Regions from separate parts of the Homo sapiens genome. Here region 2 is linked to region 1. A link means that fine-mapping ties the variant in region 1 to the expression of a gene that starts in the linked region. Tissue or cell type: fibroblasts. Region 1 holds a variant in brackets; the other region holds the start of a gene. All regions are shown on one strand. Distances are between the middles of the regions.

Region 1 (11,242 bases):
GCTGAAGTAAGGGGCTGTGCTCTCGTACACATTGTGCACATGCTGCTTCTCCAGCTGGGCGGCTTCATGATCCATCCTGGAGAAAACAGGACCAACCCAAGGCATGCAGGTCAGCCTATGCACCATAGATGGCTGAAGGAGGATGCAGATTTCCTAAAATCTGGAGCCTACAACTGCAAACTCATGCTGTTTGCACACTTTCTTATAAGCTGCAAAGAACAATACCTTCACTATAACCTCGCCATAGTAGCCAAAAGACTAGCAAATGCATGGTTTTTACCTGCCATGTTAAGGAAAACAATTTTGAGAAAGAGCTAATTATTGTGTAATAAGTTCCTGTACAAGATGAATTCTTAATTTTGGAAGCATAGCCAAAATTCTTACCAAATGGTTTACTTTGGATAAGACCATTGTATCTGATGCTAAATAGATTTCAAAATTTCATAACAGGTAGCTCACCATTTCAACCCAATAGCAAAGCGCTATTAATTCTCCCTTTTTAGTGTTTGGGTTCCAGCCATGTCTCTGTATCAGTACTGCTTTTATTTTAGTATAGGTGCCCATTTCTTTACTGAATTACTTCAACAGCTGGCAAAACGGTTCTCTTGCCATTCAATGCTTTTCCCAATTTCAATTACGTCATAATTATTTTTGTAAAATATAGGACTGGTTGTGTTGCTTCTTATTTATTTATTTTTAATTTTTGTGGGTACATAGTAGGTGTATATATTTACGGAGTACATGAGATGTTTTGATACAGGCATGCAAGGCGTAATAATCACATGAGGGAGAATGGGGTGTTCATCACCTCGAGCACTTATCCTTTATGTTACAAACAATCCAATATACTCTTTTAGTCATTTAAAAATGTACAAATAAATTTTTTTTTACTATAGTCACCCTGTTGTCCTAGCAAATACTAGGTCTTATTCTGTTTTTTGTACCCATTAACAATCTCCACTTCCCTCCCACCTCCCCGCTACGCTTTGCAGCCTCTCGTAACCATCCTTCTACTCTCTATAACCATGAGTTCAATTATTTTAATTTTTAGCTGCCACAAATAAGTGAGAACATATGAAGCCTGTCTTTCTGTGCCTGACTGATTTCAGCTAACATAATGACCTCCAGATCCATCCATGTTATTGCGAATGACAGGATTTCTTTTCTTTTCTTTTTCTTTTTTTTTTTTTTTGAGATGCAGTCTCGCTGTATCGCCCAGGCTGGAGTGCAGTGGCATGATCTCGGCTCAGTGTAACCTCTGTAGCAAGTTCCCCCAGGCCGTGGGCAGGTCTAGAGGTGCTGTCTGGGAGCCAGGGACTGCAGTCAAAAACCTTAGAAGTCTACTTGGTGTTCTAGTGTACTGTGGCTGAGCTGGCACTCAAGCCATGAGATGCAGCCCTTCCCACTCTTCCCTCCCCTTTCCAAAGACCCCTTCCCCACTGTGGCCGAGCTGGTACCTAATGTGCAAGGCAAAGTCCCCTTTCCTTGTCCCTCCACTTTTCTTAAGCAGGAGTGTTGCCCCATAGCCACCACAGATGGGAATGTGCTAAGTCGCATCTGGAGCCAGCAAGACTCAGAGTCTCACCCAAGGCCCACAGCGTATTACTTGGGTATCACCGCTGGTTATTCAGGGCCAAAGGGCTCTTTAGTCAGAAGGTGATGGGTCCTGACAGGACTAGGTCCTTCCCTTCAAGACAGCAGGTTGCCTTCTGGCCCAGGGTGTGTCTAGAAATATCATCTGGGGGGTAGGGCCTGAACAGACGGCCTCAGGACTCTGCCTGGGCCCTATCCTACCGCAGCTGAACTGGTATCCAAAATACAAGACAAAATCCTCTTTATTCTTCCCTCTCCTCTCCTCAAGCAGAAGGAAGGGCTCTTTTGGAGCCAGGAGCTGTGCAGCCTGGGTTGGGAGCGGGGTGGTGCAAGCACTCCCTTAGCAGCCCTAGCTGGTGTCTCAGTAGTGGCGTTCCCTCCTCCCCACCTGGTCCACGGGCTCTGAGGCCAGTTCAGCAGGAGGACTCACCTAGGAGCTGCAGTCCTTGGGGCCTACACTGCCTTTCAAGTGTATTTAGTACCCCAGAGCCCTTTAGCCTACAGTGGTGAGGCCTGCCGGAACTCAAGTTCAGACTGCTGGGACCAGCAATTCCCCTCTGGCTAGGGCTGGTTTAAATGCTCCCTCTGTGGGCAGCTGTCAGCTGAGTTCAGCCACATGGCTTTGCTTTCTACTGTGACAGGGCAGCACTGAGTTCGATACGGTGTTTCACAAACGCAGCATTCTCCCTCCCCTAAGCACAGATTCTCTCTGCATGCACATGGCTGCTGCCAGGGAGTTGGAGGAGGGATGGCATGGGCATATCAAGACTGTCTTGCTCACCCTCTTCTGTGCTTCCTTTAGTGATATGAAGTCAAAACCAGGCACTGTGAGCGCTCTCCTGATTTTTGGTTCTTATGTAGGTGCTTTTTTTGTGTGTTAACTCTGGTCCTTGTGGGGAGGGTGGCGGAGTGGGGACACACCATCAGTGGAGCCTTCCATTTAGCCATCTTGCTCCACACTATCCCCCTCAGTTCTTACCTTCAACTTCTTCAGAGGCATTTTATAGCTTGTCCCATTGGGTTCAGCTGGCTTAGGCGGGCACATAAGGCTCTTTCCGATCTGGCCTCACCAGACCTCTTAAGGGTTATTTCTCACCATCTTTCCTCAGCATTAGCCATAATACCCAATGACCCACTGTTTCTCAGCGGTGGCACATTCCCTCTCATCCAGGGGCCTGAACATATGCTATGCTTTACCTGGCTAAATTCTAGTCATTCTTGGAAAAGGCATCATCTCCTCCAGGAAGACTTCCCTGACCTTCCAGGCAGGATAAGGGCAACAGGGAAGGAGTAAGAAAAGCACAAGAGCAGGTCCCGTTTTGGGCTTAACCCTGTAATTATTCTATTCTATTTTGGCATGTGAGTGAGTGGTATCCCAGGGAAGTGGCCAGGGACTCGGGTTGTGGCTTTTACCCATCAGTATGAAAGTATTTTCAATCATTTAAGAACTCATTTGGCCCTACTGATGGCTATCAGCTATTGCATCCCATGCATACCTCTACAGGGATCACATAGTCCTGTAATTGTTGAATTTAGATAAGATATTTTTCTCTGGCAGAGTCTGCTGGAAGACTCTGGAGAACAAGGAGTTGTCTTATTTAATACTGAGTCCCCAGCACTTAGGACACAGCAGACCCCCAGCAAATGATCAAATAAATACACATAGTGAGAATGGAATCTGGCTCTGAGTACAGAGGGTAGTATTGGCTTTGGTTAGCAGAGGGAGTGATCACCCTGAGGAGCTGGGGAAGGGAGGGGACACTACACCTGCAAACTGGCAGATGGGAGTGTAACTGGAGAGAAGATACTGTCCCTGGACAGCCTCTGTCCCCGCACCTCTACCCCTATCCTGGGAAGTGGGAAGTACTTGGGTAAGACGGTGTCTTCCCTGTATGGAGAGAGACTTTGAGACTATGCAAATATTGTTTCTTATTTGCTCACCCACCAGTTTTAGCATCTACCAATGATTCTTGCCCCAATTATTACTACAAGTATCACCGAATGATGATAATATAATTCCATCATTCCTTCCGTTTCAAGGAACAGATATTCAGGATTTACTCTTAAAACGTAATAGGTTGTCTTTAATCAGTATGAACCTACCCACAGCCCCTGCAAAAAATCCTAGCAAACTCCTAACTGAGTATAAATCTAATTTGTGAGGTCTGACTAAACTTCCACCCAAATTGAAACAGCTTATGTTGCACCTTCAACTGAAATTTACGAAGTAAACATATGGCTGGCTATAACTGCCCACACAAGAGAAAAACAGAAACACTGTGTGCTTTTCATTTAAATCAAAATCTCAGTAGATTTTAGTCTATTTACGTTTCCCCTTTCTCAAGGAATCAATCAAGCAATACGTTTTAGAGAACACTAGAACAAGCAAGTTTTTCTTTGTTGCACTTGGAAATGTTAAGTGGTAACCGACATAAACTGGGTTCCTTGCAAATTGCAATTTAAAAATGACTTCAATTTCAAGCTCAGAATTTGTAGTATCTGAACAGCACCCCCAAGATCTTCCCCTAAGTTTTCTATGGCCTCTACTACCATCGGGTAACCTAAAAGATAGTTATTTTTAAGTGTATAAGTAATATAAATCTATTTTGTTTTTCTGATATTTTACAGTTAACTTTATAAACACTGCAGATTTAAATTTTAAATGCTGCGGATTTAAATTTCCTA[T/C]AATAGTTTCCACATGAATTTTATTTATATAAGCAAATTCCTTGTGAGTTTGAAAGTGTGACTAAGCTAATAAGACTAGTACTAAAACAAGAGCACGGGTTTCCAGATGAAGCGAGAGATAAAGGGTTTGGATTAGCCAGGATTCCTAATCTGTGTGCTGTCAAATTCCAGACCCATAAAATAATCCACATAAAAAGTCAGTACTTAAAGCCTCACATTGTGTCCCTCCTTTGAGATTCAAAATGCACACCAGCACACTATGAGTTTTGAAAAATCTTGGAGAAAAGAGTCCCGGTTGATGTTTCAAAAATCTCGCTTTTTTCTCAGAATTATTGGGTCTATAATACTCTTTCTGTCTTTAAACACCTCTTGTCTTTTTAGGAAATAATATTCTGTAGAAGACACTGTGGAAATGTTAATTTAGTGTTTTCCAATTTAAGAATGTCCCCAAAACAAAGCATTTTTCCTGATCATCCTTTTTCATTCATGTAGTTTTAGTGAAGTATGTTATCTACAAATCATAACTTCTAAGATGGTTTATAAAAAGACTAAAAGTATGAGACGGTAAACGTTTTAACTAGGAAGTCAGAAGGATGCGCATCAGAGTTGCTCATCACTGTCGATCCAAGAGAACCTGCTTCTGAGCCTTGTGCCTCCTCTTTCCAGGGATCCCCGCCTCACTGAGTGGACCCAGGTTGAAAACCAGATCTACAGGGAACCAGTCCATGGGTGAGACTGACCCAGTCTTGAGAATTTGAACTAAAAGACCTGAATAGTCAGATGACCACAAGTGGTTGGTTGTGATCACTTGGAGTCTGTGTTAGGGAGTCCATTTTTAGCCATGCACATATGGATGAAGCAAAAGAATATTTTTCTGCAAAATAAATGTAGCTGTAGGGAAAGAAAAACAAGATGAGAATCCGTGATGCTTCATAACATGGTGGGGGGAAAGGCAGAAAGATTGGGGAAGTCTAGTAGATGATATTCTAGTTCTAGTCCCTATGTAGGCTCTAGATAGGGGCTCAGGGTCACTCATCTCCAAGAAACCTGTTCATTTTACAGTACCAGCCTTGCGTCCTGAGGTACTTCATTTCCTAACCTTGAATCTCAAATCCATACCCTGTTCTAGCCCTGAAATATTCTTCACTTGAACTCACTTCTGTTTCTTACAACCACACCTTTCCCAAGGCAGGGAAACTGCTTTTTTAATTAACATTTTGAAATGATTATTTTACACTTTAAATAACTAGCGTGCAAGGATGCTGACACATAGTGTTGTAATATCTTACCTTTATTGCTACTTTTCAAGCAACTTGTAAAGCTTACGAGGTAACCTTAAAACAAACCCCCAAAATTGAATGCTAGCAATCAAAAGAAATCGTAAATGTGATGACAAAAACATAAATGAGACTGAGTAGACAAAGATACAACTAACTTTGCTGGGGGAAGTTGATGTAGGCACAGAAGAGGAGATCCCAGACATTGAATCATCTTTGTTCCTTCCCTTGCCCCACAAACTCTGCCTATTTCCAGCATTTATTTCTTGGAGGATGGAAGAGAGGACAGAAAGTGACAGAAAACTAACAGGAGAGTTAGTGGCCTGGCATGTTTCCAAAGGGTAGAAAAACAAAGAGAAGGACATTGGCAATTCCTGCTACTAGCAACAGGGTTCTACTGAGAAGTCACAAATGTTTAGTTTTCCTTCCCTGGACATGTGATTAGGCTAACATTTTTCTACCTACTTGAATTCAGATAAACCCTAAGTGACTTGCTATGGCATAAACGTCATCTGAAAAGATCAGGATTACCCCACTGTGTTGCTTTCCAAGTTCCCTATCCCTTATCACTGCAATGAAATGTTCCTTGTCCTGGAGGCATCAGCCTGGGTCCCTCAGAACTCTTGATGGAGAGATATCATGGGTATTCTAATCCCACCCACCAAAAGGAATAAAAAGCTCAGTTCATCATATGAACTGTAGAATATCTAGATCATGAAAAAGTGAAAAGTATACATCAGTTTTTATTAGATGACAACTTGTTACCATATAAGTTCCCCCTTTTTTCTTCATAAAGATTAAAAGTTTTCTTTCTCGTAGAGATATATTATAATAAAATTGAGAGAAAACCGGACAGTTTTGCATCCTACTTTTTTGAACTTAATATTGTGAGCCTAGTGGCAACTTCTACCTACAGTCTTCTCCACCTTCTCAAAGAAATATAACCTCTACACTCCCTAATTCCACAGCACTTGAAATATGTCATGTGCTGTAAAGTATTATAATGGCTTAAGTATTTCTACTAGATTCTGAACTTCTAAATAAGAAACAAGATTTCATACACATCTTTGGTTAGCCCATAATATCTAGCACTGGCCCTAAATGTAATAGGTCTAAATACGTTTAGTGAATTCATGAATGATGGAACTCTAGCCAATTCAACAATATTTCTTTTAAATTTTTAAATCATATTTTAACAGTTTTATTTAGGTATAATTGACATATAACAAACTGCATATATTTAAAGTATATAATTTGATGTTTTTACATACATATGTGTGTGCGTATGCGTGTATGTATGTGTGAAACCATCAAGACACTCAAGATAATGACCATATCCTTCCCCCAATAAATCACCCCTCCCATCTTCTCCCACCCTGAACAATCTTTCTTTTTTTTTTTCTTTTCTTTTTTTTTTTTTTTTTGAGATGGAGTCTCCCTCTGTCACCCAGGCTGGAGTGCGATGGCATGATCTTGGCTCACTGCAACCTCCGCCTCCCAGGTTCAAGCGATTCTCCTGCCTCAGCCTCCTGAGTACCTGGAATTATAGGCACGTACCACCATGCCTGGCTAATTTTTGTATTTTTACTAGAGACGGGGTTTCACCCTGTTGGTTAGGCTGGTCTTGAACATCTGACCTCATGATCCACCTGCCTTGGCCTACCAAAGTGCTAGGATTACAGGCGTGAGCCACTGCGCCCAGCCCCTGAACAATCTTTCTTAATGCCATGTTTCTGGGTAAAGAAACAGGGATAGAGAGGTGGACATTAACATATATATCCAACAGCCACAATTTCAAAGGCAACTCTGAGTATTTGATGTGTTGACAAATAAAAGTAAAAAGGTTTTTTCCCAAGTTTTTCCAGCTTCTTAATGATCACTGGAAAGCTATGCACATATTCACACCCAGAGGCAAATAGTAAAAATATTCTGAGGAACTGAAAAGGCTTCCAGGGAAAAGGTTTTTCTACTGTCTCATCAAGGAGATGACACTCTGTACTTGACCCACAGAAATCTAGTGAACTCTGAGAAAGAAGGCTTTGTTTTGTCCCCAAGAGTGGCTCCTTGTCACCAGGGAGGAGGTGCTATAACTAAATGTCCTCAAGACGGTGCTTTTTATACCTGCTCCTCCTAAGAAGTTAGCACAGAGGCCAGGGTAATAGGCTGTAAGCACTTAGCCCTGTCATCAGAAGGGATTTCTCATTTGTTTGTGATGGGAACTTCTATTACCTCTATCTTGAGTTTCTTTCTGTACCACACTTTTGCCTGTAGTGAGTCCTCTATGTTTTAGCTCTATGGAAAACACACGTGGCTTTAGAACAGTTCTGTCTCCAAATACTGACATACATTTATGAATTAAAACCTCTTTCTATCATACAGAACAATAAAGCTTTTAGAGGAAAATACAGAACATCCTCATGACCTTGGAGTAAGTTAAAATTTCTTACAAAGGGTCATATAAAGTGCTAACCATAAGAGGAAAAATAAAGTAGACTATATTAAAATGAAGACACCATGAAGAGAAGGAAAATTCAACCCAGAGTGTGAAGAAGTATTCGTAGTACATACAGATGACAATTGAGTAGTATCCAGAATATAAACAATTCTTACAAATCACAGAGTAATAGAAGACAACACAATTGAAAAATGGGCGAGAGACTTTAACAGACACTTCATAATGGTCAGGAGACGGGCAGGAAACACACACAAAGGGGCTTAACTTCACTAGTATCAGGGAACCGCAAATTTAAGCCACAATAGGATCCCACCACCTATACAAAAGAATGGGTAAAATGGAAAACACAAAGAATATCTAGTGTTGGTGAAAACATGGAATCGGTGAGTTCTAATACACCACTGGAAGAAATGTGAATTGTTTCAATCTGTTTGGAAAACCGCCTGACAGCAACAACTAAAGCTACACATATGCATAGCCTATGGCCCAGCAACCCCACTCTTAAAAGTATATACATATATCCGAAAGAAATGGACACCCATATTCACCAAAAGACATATGCTAGAATATCCAAAGAAGCACTCTTCGAAGTAGCACAAATCTGGAAACTGCACATGTGACCATCATCAGTAAAATGATCAAATAAATTGTGGTATATTCATAGAATGAAATGCTACCAGGGTAGCATGGAAGTTTGCAACCATATGCAACAATATGGATCAGTCCCTATATTAGTCCATTTCGTGTTGCTGTAAAGGAACTCCTGAGCCTGGGTAATTTATAAGGACAAGCAGTTTGTTTGGTTCATGGTTCTACAGGCTGTACAAGCATGGCACCAGCATCTGCTTGGATCCTGGTGAGGCCTCAGGAAGCTGTTACTCATGGTGGAAGGTGACTGAGGAGCACGTGTGTCACAAGGTCAGAGAGGGAGCAAGAGAGAGGGGAGGAGATGCCAGGCTCCTTTAAACAACCAGCTCTCATGTGAACTGATAGAGCAAGAAGTCACCCATTACCATAAGGAGGATGCCAAGCCATTCCTGAGGGATCCACCACCATAACCCGAACACATCCCAATAGTCCCCACCTCCAACATTGGGGGTCACATTTTAACATGAGATTTGGAGGGGACAAACATCCAAATGATATACATTCCACAAATATCATATTAAAAGGGAAGTCCACAAAAGAATACACACTGTTGGATTCCGTTTATGGAAAGTACAAAAACATGAGCCCATAGATAGATCAAAGAAAATAAAAAATAAAATAAAATAAAATAAAATAAAATAAAATAAAATAAAATAAAATAAAATAAAATAAAATAAAATAAAGAAGGTACAAAAACAGATAAAACAAATGTGGGCCATTAGAAGTGGGATAGAGGCTGCCTGGGGTAGCAGCTGGCAGGGAGCACTGGGGGTTGGGAGGTGGTCCTGGGGTGCTGATAATGTTCTGTTTCTTGATCTGGGCTCGGGTTACATGAGGGCGCTCAGGTTATGAAAAATTCATTCATTTATTTGTACATTTATGATATATGCACTTTGGTCCATGTATATTTCAATTAAAACCCCCTTTTGCTTTGAGGCAGTTGCCTTGTTATGTACTTTAAACCATGTTAGAACTTAAAACTGAGCAGAGTATCCTCTCTCATCTGTGTTCTGCCATTCCCATGAGGGATGAATGCCATCCAGTCAGTGCCTTCTGGGCAGCTAGAAATTGGAGATCACTGGGTTCAAAGATCAGGTGAAATGTCAAAGCAGTATCCCCATTCAATAAGATTATGTCATAGTATATACAGAAAGTGCTGAGAGAGTTTTGCCTCAGAAGAAATCTAACTGAAGAAATAAGTAACTTAAATGAGATAATGTCTAATGCCAGATTATCCAGTAACCAGCCAAGAATAGAGTCCATTTGCTCCCAGTAAAGAAGTTGTTTCAGTTAGGGCACCAGGTAAGTGACTCATCAGTATGATGAGAGGAAGGAAATTCATTTTACCTACCTTATATTTGTGATCTTATTACACATTGAATAGCTTTACTCAATAACTCAAAGTGAAATTAAGGATGAATTGTGCCAGCCACAGCTTCCAAGTAGCACAACTATAATAATGTATGAGGATTACTGATCTCAATAAATAGATGGGAACATAAATTGTGTAAAGGTCCAGGAAGGAGGCTACATGATCCTCAGCTTGTAGCAGCAGGTGGTTGCTATTGCTGCTTACCTTCATTCTCTAATTATCTTGCTGTTTCATGGTTACTGTTACTCGTTAAGACAATTTTCAGTTATTTCAGTACCTTATGAAAAATGTATGGACAAACTAGTGTCCTCATTTATTACTCTCATGTGGATCATCTGTGATATTTAGTCTACTGTTTATGTGGCTCTTTATATGTGCAGTTATTGGAAAAATCTGCTGAGCTTTTTAGTCTGCAGAGAATAAAATCTTTCTGAAAAATGTTATAATATTTAAAAGCCTTAGAACCTAAGACAACAATGACTTGGGTCTAATTGGTATCTGGATGGTTAATCTCCCGAAACACACACAACTAATAGATGAATCAGTGTTCCCTCCCAAAAAACCAAACCCAAAACAAAAACAACACAAAGAAGACAAACATGTGTATCAGTAAAGTTTTCTTTATAAAAATCAAGAAAAGGATCAAGACAGAATGACAAGGAAAAGAAGAAAGAAACCAGGGGAAGTGCAAGGAGAAGAAACGGGCAATTAATATATGTATTGAGTGATTATCATGCGGTTCATATATGTTAGTGCAAAGAAAGCCAGAAATGGAGAATAAGGAAAGCAGACAAAGAGCTAAGAGCTATGACTTAATATGTATAAAGAACAGAGAGAAGAAAAGGTAAAAAATATATAACTTTGTATAAATTTGTTTATATCTACTCCAATTAGCACTCAAACTAGATTTATATAATCAAATATCAATTGCTCATTTAACTTTTTACACATTTATCACTAATGGAAATTACATTTTGACTGCTTCTAACTGCAGCTGAAACTTGCTTGAAGCTTTGTGTTAAGAAACTAAAACCCAAAATAATGCCAAAGGTTAACAATTCTTGCTCTAGAAAGTCTAGAGTTGTATTGTGTTGCAGTTTATTATGTTCATTTCCACAGTATTAGGAAATTATTAAAAAGGGAAATTTTCAGTGAGCCCTCTGTGTGTGTAAACTGACACATCTTCAAACGAATGCATGAGAAGTCGGGAGC
Region 2 (11,242 bases), 54 kb after region 1:
ATCGGGGGCTTTGGGCTGGCCCCGCGACAGCCGTCGGGAGACCGCCCGCGGCCCCCGCCCCCGTCACCGTCCCCGCCTCCCCGGGCCGCCTTCACCTTTCGGGAGGCGGCGCTCGGGCTCAGCTGTCCGGGAACCCAGGCCTGCGGCGCCTCCGGGCAGCGAAGGCGGGCTGGCGCGCGGCGGAGCCGGGGACTGTCGCCTCCCCGCCCCGTTCCCTGCAATCGCCCCGCCCGAACGTGCCCGGGAAGTGAGGCTGGGCCGCGCCCGCCCCGCCGGGGACGGGGTGACCTTCCGGCCTCCAGCCGTGCCCTTGTTGCCTGCCTCTCTCGGCGTGGCCCTTCCTGCGTAGGAGAAGACGCCCCGGCGGGAGCACCTGGTCGGCCCGCAGCGCATCAGCGCAGTACCTTGGGTGACGACGACGCTTGGCTTTAGCGCGGCTCTTCTCACTTAATTTTTTACAGCCCCGGACTTCAGCGGAAATGCCCCCTCGGGGTCGGTTCATTGGGATAACTGGAGATGGGGGGGTTAAGTAGGGTGCCACGGCTTAGACGCTCCAAATCATTCCACTACACAACATGCCTAATCTGCTGAGTTTTGCAAAACGAGCCCCATCAAAAAAGCATCCATCAGAAGGCGGGGTGGAACTTAGAAGTTTTTGCCCAAAACTGGACACAAACCTTTCCTCCCCCCATTGCTTCTATGACAATAGCGTTAACTACTTTCTTCCAGGTCCCTAACGTAATAGTATCTTCAACCGCCTATTATCAAACAACTCCGTTATCATCAGGGATCTATGCACTTTAAAAATGCACGTTCTTAGTGACGAAAAATGAGCACATTTAGTAACCGCTCTGCCGCCCTTTGTATAGAGGTTCGTGCTCCTGATCCCCAGCGTAGGGGGCAGAGTTCATGTCGAGCTGTTGTTTCCAGTTCAGGTTATTTATGGGGACCCAACTACAGGTCTCACATAGACGCTGGTCTATAACAGGTTATTTGTGAGGACACAACTACAGGTCTCACATAGACGCTGGTCTATTTCAGGTGCTACTAAGAGGGCTAATGGACGTCAGCATATAGTTTCTGATTCTGGAATCGTTTTCTAGTGCCACAGTATATTGGGTGGGGTGGAGTGGGGGAAACCTTTGTTTGGGCTTCTCTTTATCCTCATGCCCTGGATAATCAGACTGACATTTTCTTTTTCTGTAAAGGCCTCACATTCAAAAAGAAAGAAAGAAAGAAAGAAAGAAAAAACCACGAGTCTGGTTTTACGTATTCTTGAGCTGAATGCCAGCTACAGAAATGCAGCAGCTCATCCTTGCTTCCATTCACTGGAGCTACAACTACAATATGTCTTCGGACACAGAAGACGTATTGGATACTGTGATGTTCCTTGTCCTCTTCTAACAGTGCATTAGGAGACAAAGCATACCTAAAGTATAGGATAGTGCCTGGCAAATAGTAGGACCTGATAAATACTCGTCCAGTGATTGAAAGACTGTGATAAACAGGAAAGTAACCTACCTTAACTTTTGTAGGAAAACATAAGGGAAATCAGTTATAGGTGACATTGTCAGGGAAGGCATCCTGGAAGTGGTGTCCAATGTCTGATTTAGATATAAAAAATTGGCTAAGGACTAGGTGAGGTGGCTCATGCCTGTTATTCCAGCAGTTTGGGAGGCTGAGGTGGGAGGATCGCTTGAGGCCAGGAGTTTGAGACCAGCTTGGGCAACATAGTGAAACCTCATTTCTGAAAGAAATACAAAACATTAGCTGGGCGTGGTGGTGCATGCCTATGATCCCAGCCATTCAGGAGGTTGAGGCAGGAGGGTCACTTGAGCCCAGAAGCTTGAAGTTGCAGTGAGCTGTGCTTGCACCACTGCATTCCAGCCTGGGTGACAGAGAACCTATCTCAAAATAAGTAAATAAATAAATAGAATTAACTAGGGAGTGGAAGTGAGAAAGTATATTTGATATGCTTTCAAGACATAATAGAGGCAGAGATTCTTAACCTTTTGTAGGTAATAGGCCCCTATGAAAATGTTGATAGAAGCTTTGAAACCCCCTTATATAATAAACAAATGTAAAATATTTGCATTTGTTTTCTGAAAGTTCACTGACGGCTTGAAGCAGACATGTAGAATCCCTAGAGACTTGTGAACTATGACATGAGTTACCAACTTCTTTCTTGTTTGGAGGCAGGTAGAAAAATAAAGAGATTTTTCTAGTTGAGGCCATCATAAGCGGCATTTCAGTGACCACCAGTAGAATTTGGGTAATGGTTGTGGGAAAGGAAAGAAAAATGTACTGTAAAGAAAATTTGTACACCAGAGAAACATAGCTAGACTTTTAAGCCATTTATGTTATTTTTGTACCAGAGAATTTCACTTTCACATCTCAGCAAAAAGGAGGAAAGGATAAAAAATGACTGTCAAAATATTGACAGTTGCTGATGCTGGGTGTACACATGGGGGTTTATTGCATTATTTTCTCATTATTTGTGAGGTTTAACGTTTTTCAGTTTTTTAAAATTTCAGTGGATTTTTACTCTCGGTAGTCATAACCAATCCTATGGCATTTCCTAACTTGAGTTCTTAGAATGGAGATTTTTGTATATAAAAAAAGAAAGAAAGAAAAGAAAAAGAAAACAATACAAACAGGCCAGTGATGCCACACATAAGATTGTTATTAATAAGTAGAGTCTATGTAGAAACAATACGTTTTCTCTGAGGAAGAATTATAAAGTGTGTTGGCCATAGTCTCAACAGAAATTAGACAACTATGAAACGTTGAACACGTGTTTTTCTGGTTTTTTGTTTGTTTGTTTTTGAAACGGAGTCTTGCCCTGTCACCCAGGCTGGAGTGCAGTGGTGCGATCTCGGCTCACTGCAAGCTCCGCCTCCCAGGTTCACGCCATTCTCCTGCCTCAGCCTCCCAAGTAGCGGGGACTACAGGCGCCTGCCACCATGCCCGGCTAAGTTTTTGTATTTTTAGTAGAGATGAGGTTTCACCGTGTTAGCCAGAATGGTCTCGATCTCCTGACCTCGTGATCCACCCGCCTTGGCCTCCCAAAGTGCTGGGATTACAGGCATGAGCCACCGTGCCTGGCCTTCTGTTTTTTTCTAATGTTACACTTAACTTCACTGTGTGTTGCTTAGTTAACTAAGTTTCTTTATCATTACATTTTATTATTATATCATGCATATAATTTATATACTTATATATTATATATTCATATGCAATGTAAATATATATGCAATATGAATATATATTCACATGTATTATATATTTTAATATATTTATATAATATAAATTATTGTATTATGTGTTATATACATACATATATTTATATATAACAGAATATATTATATATATTATATATACAGATGTTCCTTGAATTACGATGGTTCATTTACAATTTTTCAACTTTATGATGATTTGAAAGCAATGCATATTCACAAGAAGTTATACTTCTAGTACTCATACAACCATTGTCTTTCATTTTTACTACAGGATTCAATAAATTACATGAGATATTCAACACTTTATTATAAAATAGGCTTTGTCTTAGATGGTTTTGCCCAATTGCAGGTTAATGTAAGTGTTCTGAGCACATTTTAAGGCTAAGCTAAACCAAGCTATCATGTTCAGTAGGTTAGGTGTGTTAAATGCATTTTACAACACTTTCCATTTACAATGGGTTTATTAGGATGTAACCCCCATCGTAAGTCAAGGAGCAACAGTACTATATAATATTATTATGACCTTTCTCAGTTAACTCAGTTTCTTTATTAGTCAACTCCCTGGGTCTGGCACACACCTCTTAAGGCTACAGATGGCCGGCCATGATTCCTTGAATGCCTGCCTTACTCACTGCCTGTTTCTGAGCAAGGCAGCCCCAATGCTTCCTTATACATAGGCTGCACACTTTCCAAATGTGACCAATTCAATCAACCAAAGGAGCTATCTAGCATGTCCTGTGGACTACAAGGCTGTTGCCTAGCAAAGCATGAAATTTCTCCAGCTTATGTAATAAATACTGCACACCTGAAGTCTCTTAAGTTATGGCATTTAAGTAAGGAATTCACGTAAGTTCTTTTCCTAAAGCTTTTGACCATTATTTTACTTATCCTCATTGGCTATCACAGTCCTTAGCACTTAGAACTCAATGCACATATTTGCATTAATATGCATGTGTTGCCATAAGCCTCAAAATGTGCTGCATGATGCTTATGTCACCATTTCATTCACTTCAGCCTTGACCATCTATTTTATTCAAGGACGTGGTCTAAGGTACTGGCTCTTAGCCATTGAGGGTGCTTACCTATTATTAGCTTAATGGAGACTTACCAAAAAAATTACTGTATTTTTACCCACTTTTCTCCACCTTTCCAAGTCATCCCATATTTTTTTAGTGGTTTTAGCTAGTTTAGCATGATAACATCTTGATGCATAAGGAAGTGGAATCATCACCAGGCTGAATGGTAGACCCGGGTGAGCTTAACTTCAGATTGCAGGAAGAAATTGTGAGGTGTGTTCCAGTCTCTCAGACTGATCTTTAGGAGACTGGAGACAAAATATTCCAACAACAGGGATAGGCAAAGCTCAAGCTTTATGGCCTCATTGGTTTTAAAGGATTCCCCACAGTGACCCAGTCAGAATGGACTGAGAATCAAAGAGCTCACAGCTGTTTATTAGTCAGCACAATTTAGAGACAGACATGCTAACCAAGAGCTGTCTTTGTCATTTTGGGATGTTCACGGGCTGGAGTCCCAGTAGCCATCTCCTAAATCCTAAACCCTTCAGTTCTTCAGCCATTTTGCTGCTAGAAAGTGTGTAGCTGCTGCCTTTATCCAAGGAACTGATATCTTCCACACCTCTGAAACCTGGAAGACCTTCTCAAGGTACATAGGGAACTTCCTGGCATTGGGAATAGGATGGTTTCTTCTCTTATAGGGTTTTATGCACCAAAAAGAGAAATGCCACTTCTTCTCTTTCTTCCTGAACTTTTAAAAAAGTAGTCCTGCCAAGTCTCATCATTTCTCAAGCACCTGTCCTTGGTCCTCTGCTTTTCTCTCTATATAATCTCCCTAGACAACCTCATCCACCTTTCTAACTGCAAGGAAAAACGCTGTGTAGATTTCTCAAAATTCTGTTTCTCTGAATTGGTCTTCTCATAAACCTGCAGATCCCATGCTCTCATCTTGCTTGACATCTCCACCAGGGTGACATCAACACATTCGAACCTGAGGTCCTTCGCCCTCCGTGCACCTAAAGCAGCTGCCCTTTTCTTTCTTCTACAATCTCCGTCCTCCCAGTCACCTGGCACATTCTTAGACTCTGCTTCTTCTTGCCCTTCATAGCCCATGGGTGACCACCGTCTGACAATTTTGTATCTGTACTGCTTTTATTTATCAACTCTGCTCCCTTCTTATTGTTTCTATTCTAGTTCTTTATGTCCCATTACTTCCCACCTAGATGATTACACTAATTGCTTAATCTGCTCTTCTGATTGCCAAGGCCGTCTCTTCCATAAAAGATAATTCCAGACAAAAAGCTATTGTCTAGATTAATCTTTCTGTCCTAAGAATGTATCAGTTCTTGATCTAGATGCTTCTTACATTTATCACTAACCTTTGTATAAAGTATTATTTTATTCAACAAAGATTCATTGCTGAGCAGTCTGTGAGAAAAGCAATGGGGAGCAAAACAGATAAGATATCTACCCTCATGGCACTTATAGTCTCGTGGGATGACAAACATTAATCAACTAATCACAAATATCACAACTAAAATGTGCAACCCCAAATTGCAACACATACCTTGAAGGAAGACTGCAGAGTTGCTAGGAGAGCTCACAGGTTTCATCACTTTCCCAGAGGGAGGACTGTGTAGGATTCAGCCTTAGATCCTGAAAGTCTAGTCCAGAGCCCTGCACATGGAAGTACTGAATAAGTTGAAGGAACATATGCATCAAGAAAAAAAATTCAAAACAAACTAACAAAAAACACAAAAAATGAAAAAAGAATAAAACAAAGAAAAAAAGCCAAAAGAACATGTGCATCTACTTCTGACATATACATGTGTGATCTTTTCTGTACTACACAATACTGAATAAAACACACACCGGATGTTCCCTCAAATACTGACCTCAACACATAGCCACGTTAGCTGTTTGCTTTTGTTTCCATGACCACATGTCCATGGGGCATCTAATCTCTAAATACACCCTATTTTCTTTGCCAGCATGACAACATGTAGAAACTTGTTATCCTGGTAGCATTACCAAGAATAATTGTTGCTTTATGGTGAAAGTTTTTAGGCATGCTTTAATACTTTGCTGTTATCACCAACACAAACCCATCATCCCTCTTCCCTACAGTTTGGAATGTTTGCTGAAGATGTCAAACAACATTGTTTCTTTTGCCCCTTGGGAAACTGGTTCATCCTCCAGCTGTCCTTTGTGTCATTCGCCAGCTTCCTCTCCATTTCCAAAGCTGTTTGAGTATTACCTCTTCATCCTCATGCTCTTACCTTTTGTCTGTCACTCTTTCATCATTCTGCTATTATGATCACGTAATTTTTGGAGTCAGCTTTTCGCTGGAACACTGAGTGACACATATCACTTGGCTTATTTTATCTCTTTTTTTTTCTTTTTACAATACTATTAGATAATTTGTTTCAAGAAGCACTTTTGTGCATAGAATCTCAGGTCTGATTTGGGTGTGTGTGTTGTTTGTTTCCAGCTTTGAATGAACAAGGACTGGAAAAGATGAGCTTATTTGTCATGGTAGGAAAAGAAAAACTGCAAAAAAATACAATAAATTTCACCAACAGAGAATGTGTTATATAAATAAGGGAGCAACTACATGTTAAAAAATGCAGAGCCATGATCCTGAAGACAATTTAATGACCTGGAGATACAATGCAGTGTTAAATAAAAAGCAGTTTCACCCCAATATTTTAACATTATATAGTATATTTACATATATGTAGGGGAAAATGCTGGACAACCATACAAAAATGTGACTAGTGATTTTCTCTAGGTGATGGAATTTTATTTTCATATATATATATATATATATATATATACTTTTTTTTTTGAGAGAGGCAGACTTGCTCTGTCCCTCAGGCTGGAGTGCAGTGGTGCAATCTCAGCTCACTGTAATCTCTGACTCCCAGGTTCGAGTGATTCTCCTTCCTCAGCCTCCCAAGTAGCTGGAATTACAGGCGCGTGCCACCAGGCCTGGTTAATTTTTTTGTATTTTTAGTAGAGACAGGGTTTCACCATGTTGGTCAGGCTGGTTTCAAACTCCTGACCTCAGGTGATCCACCCACTTTGGCCCCCCAAAGCGCTGGGATTACAGGCATGAGCCACCACACCTGGCCTCTTCTATATATTTTTTAAAGGGAAGGGGATTCTATGCAGTTTGCGAGCAAAGCATATCCCTATTTATAGCCACAACTCTTGTCTCATAAATTTTATTGCTATTTCATCACTGCTCTTACCAATGAAATATGTGAGGAGCAGTACCAACATAGTACTCTTTCGTTCTCTTTATTATTATTTTAAATTCTCAAGTGCAAAAGTACGAGAAAGTCCAATTGTTTCAAGTGTAGAAGTCACAATGACCTCATCATTCTCACCGTAAAAAGCTATTTTATGTCTATGTCAAAAATAAATTACCTATTGTATTTACATCCTGTTTTTTAGGTGAAGGCAAATGTTGGCTCCCTGGCTAAGTGTCTTGATGAGATCTACCTATTAGTAATGGTAATCTTGGGTTTGTATGACAGTCAGCTCTAGGAAAAATGGAGAAATAGGGTCACTCTGTGTGTGTGTGTGTGTGTGTGTGTGTGCATTATGTGCACTTGTGCACTCACCTGTGCTCGTGTCATCCCTAGAGATTTGATTCTGGGGAAAACAAAGGGTGAATTTTGAGATAGTTGGTTTTTATTTTTCTCTGGAGATATATTTTGAACTTTTTGGGGGATACAAGTTTTGAGATATTTTCAAATAAATTAATACTTAAGATTAGATCCTAATGTATGTTACTAGAAGTTAACGCATTGTAAAATAGTTTCAGAAAGCTGTGCCATAAGAAAATTTTGTTCGAAAACTATTTGCAATTGTCAAAGCACAGCTCTTATCTTCTGAGAGCAAGCAAGACAATACTAATCTTCTTCAGCCTTCCTCTCAGAGTTCAAATAACCCGAGTTCTGTGACACTGATCTTAATCAAGACCTCTGGGCCTTAAATTACTTATCTAAAAAGAGAGAGCATTGAGTCAGATAATCACTGAGATCACCCACGATTCTTAAAAGAAAATGCATTTTTGCTTAGATCTGGAGTGAAAATCATTCCATTGTAAAAAGCTATTTTATGTCTATGTCAAAAATAAATTACCTATTGTATTTACATTCTGTTTGTTAGGTGAAGGCAAATGTTGGCTCCCTGGCTAAGTGTCTTGATTATATCTACCTATTCGTAATGGTAATCTTGGGTTTGTGTGAAAGTCAGCTCTAGGAAAAATGGAGAAATAGGGTCACTCTGTGTGTGTGTGTGTGTGTGTGCATTGTGTGTACTTGTGCACTCACCTGTGCTCATGTCATCCCTAGAGATTTGTAGAGTTGTAAAATAAAGAAGGAATTTGGTGCTTTCTTTATTGCATCCATTTATGATCTAAAGGTTCAGTAGGAAAATTTCCCATTTTCCAAGCTGCATTTCAAAAGGCTGGGTATGGAGTTAATAGTTGGTAGAAGCTTCTATTTAATTCATCCGAAAAATTTAGGAAGAACTTGTGAGATGGAAGAGGAAGGAGACTTATTCTGAGATGCTCCAGAGGGCAGACTTGGACCAGTGAATGCAAGTTACGGGGAAGAACATTTAGACTCAACTAGAGGAAGAGATTTCTAAAGTTTGAACTGCATAAAAGCAGAGCTTTTGCAAGAGGCACAACTCTTTGTCTCTGGATCGGCAGAGGAAGAGGGCAGCTCGTTTACTGGTGATGTTTGTAGAGGGTACCCATACATCAGACAGGAAGTCGTGTCAGACACCTCAATGTCCCCTCCTGGGCTGGGGTTCTTTGATGTGATATGACAATGTACTTTGGCAAATGGCAGAATACACAGTCTTTTCAGGTGTTTGGACAAAGAATGAGCCTAGTATTTTCACAACACAGGCTTTGCAGCTCTTATTTCTCTTTCCTGCTCCGATGGTGTCACCTTCTGTACTGGTGATGAAACTGGTTATGTTTGGAATAGGAGTCAAGTCAAGGTATAAATAACGCGAGAAAGAGATGGCAAAGATTGGTTTCATCCAATTTATTTGAAGGATCCAGCTGAGACCAGAACAGGGAATCCGCCTTGGAGACCATGAAAAAATGTTTTCATGGATAATCCAGGAAAATGGCGTCCTAGTTTCGGCATAAGACTGCACATACCTGTTGAACTGGAATTTGTACTTTCTTCTTCCCATTTAATGTGAAAGAAGAAAAGGAAACAGAATAAGCAAATGAGAAAGAAAAGAAACTTTATCCGAGGAATGCAAGCCTCCTGTAAATGATCAGGCCCAGAGAGGCAAGGGAATGAGGCAGCAGTCAGGCCCCACTTCTCCCCTGGAGCTAAGCTAATCATCTCTTGAATCTGCTTGCTCTAGACTGACTGTCGCCACAAGTAGCTGTAAATTAACCTAACAATGCCATGCACTGGACACCATAACTAATATCCTATAGTTCAAAAATATATAGCTAATTACTAATCATTGTCATTTCTGTTAACCAATGGGAATTCCTGACAACTTGTCTGCCTTGTTGCCTTTAAAAACCTGCTTGTAAGAAAGGTTGAATGAAGCTCATATCCAAAGTTACTTGGGTCTGAGTCTTTCAGGCAGCTGTCCTCATCTTGGCTCAAGTAAACGCTTTAAAATTATATTTTGTGCCTTAGCTTCTTCCATGAGGTTGCCACAAATAACAATTATCAGTAGAAAGATGACTAGAAGCATTTTAAAAATCCAACTGAGCAGTCAAAACAGGCACTAAAGGTCAGAGAAGTTATTTTTTTCTTGTAGTTTGTCTAAAAGAAAAATAAATTACCATCAGGAAACAAAAACAACAAAACGGGAGAAAATGCCATTCGCAGGAGAAGATTGCAGGTGAAATAGCACAGAGGTTGAAGTCACTGCTCAGGGCCAGACGGGTGGGAAGTTTCCTTGGCTCGTCCTTTATTTATTTATTTATTTATTTATTTATTTATTTATTTATTTATTTTTAAATTATACTTTTAAGTTCTAGGGTACATGTGCGCAACGTGCAGGTTTGTTACATATGTATCCATGTGCCATCTTGCTGTGCTGCACCCATTAACTCGTCATTTACATTAGGTATATCTCCTAATGCTATCCCTCCCCACTCCCCCAACCCCACGACAGGCCCCAGTGTGTGATGTTCCCCTTCCTGTGTCCACGTGTTCTCATTGTTCAATTCCCACCTATGAGTGAGAACATGCAGTGTTTGGTTTTCTGTCCTTGCGATAGTTTGCTCAGAATGATGGTTTCCAGCTTCATCCATGTCCCTAGAAAGGACATGAACTCATCGTTTTTTTATGGCTGCATAGTATTCCATGGTGTATATATGCCACATTTTCTTAATCCAGTCTATCATTGTTGGACATTTCGGTTGGTTCCAAGTGTTTGCTATTGTGAATAGTGCCGCGATAAATATACGTGTTCATGTGTCTTTAAAGCGACATGATTTATAATCCTTTTGGTATATACCCAGTAATGGGATGGCTGGGTCACATGGTATTTCTAGTTCTAGATCTTTGAGGAATCACCACACTGTCTTCCACAATGGTTGAACTAGTTTACAGTCCCACCAACAGTGTAAAAGTGTTCCTATTTCTCCACATCCTCTCCAGCATCTATTGTTTCCTGACGTTTTAATGATAGCCATTCTAACTGGTGTGAGATGGTATCTCACTGTGGTTTTGATTTGCATTTCTCCGATGGCCCATCACTTTCTTAATTGCAGGAGAGAATTCATCCATGATTTTGGACAGTGGCTCTTTTCTTTCCCCACAGCAAAGCTTTTCTACATTTACTATTCAGGACGTATACAGGCAACTGTAAGGTAACATAGGTCACTTCTCTCAATTCTATCTGATTACAAATCGGATCAGCATAACCTGGAGCACACAATTTAAGAAAAATGTCAAGCACAATTTTCCTATATTCAAACTTAATACA

Which allele goes with the higher level. Positions count from the first base shown, and alleles are read on the strand shown. Sizes are in standard deviations (SD) of each study's normalised expression.
For the expression in fibroblasts of the gene that starts at base 6,113 in region 2, allele C in region 1 goes with a lower level than allele T (moderate effect, 0.43 SD a copy in GTEx).

Evidence for each region. PIP is the estimated chance that this variant, and not a neighbour inherited with it, causes the effect.
Region 2: TRMT9B starts here. The variant in region 1 is fine-mapped to the expression of TRMT9B in fibroblasts (GTEx, PIP 0.96).

Annotation. Positions count from the first base shown.
Region 1 is chr8:12,995,036-13,006,277 of GRCh38, reverse strand. It overlaps TRMT9B (tRNA methyltransferase 9B (putative)), which reads right to left. Exons shown (of 5, transcript NM_020844.3): 3 at 1-76. The coding sequence starts at 75. The region is part of intron 4 of LOC124901889 (a long non-coding RNA gene); the gene reads left to right. Among named protein-coding and RNA genes, the nearest start is that of TRMT9B, 55 kb to the right of the region's middle. RefSeq lists a silencer at 1-178. The variant T/C (reference allele first, on the strand shown) is at 4,279.
Region 2 is chr8:12,940,544-12,951,785 of GRCh38, reverse strand. TRMT9B (tRNA methyltransferase 9B (putative)) reads right to left here and starts at 6,113. Exons shown (of 5, transcript NM_020844.3): 1 at 5,820-6,113. RefSeq lists a silencer at 98-247 and enhancers at 419-919, 9,357-9,896.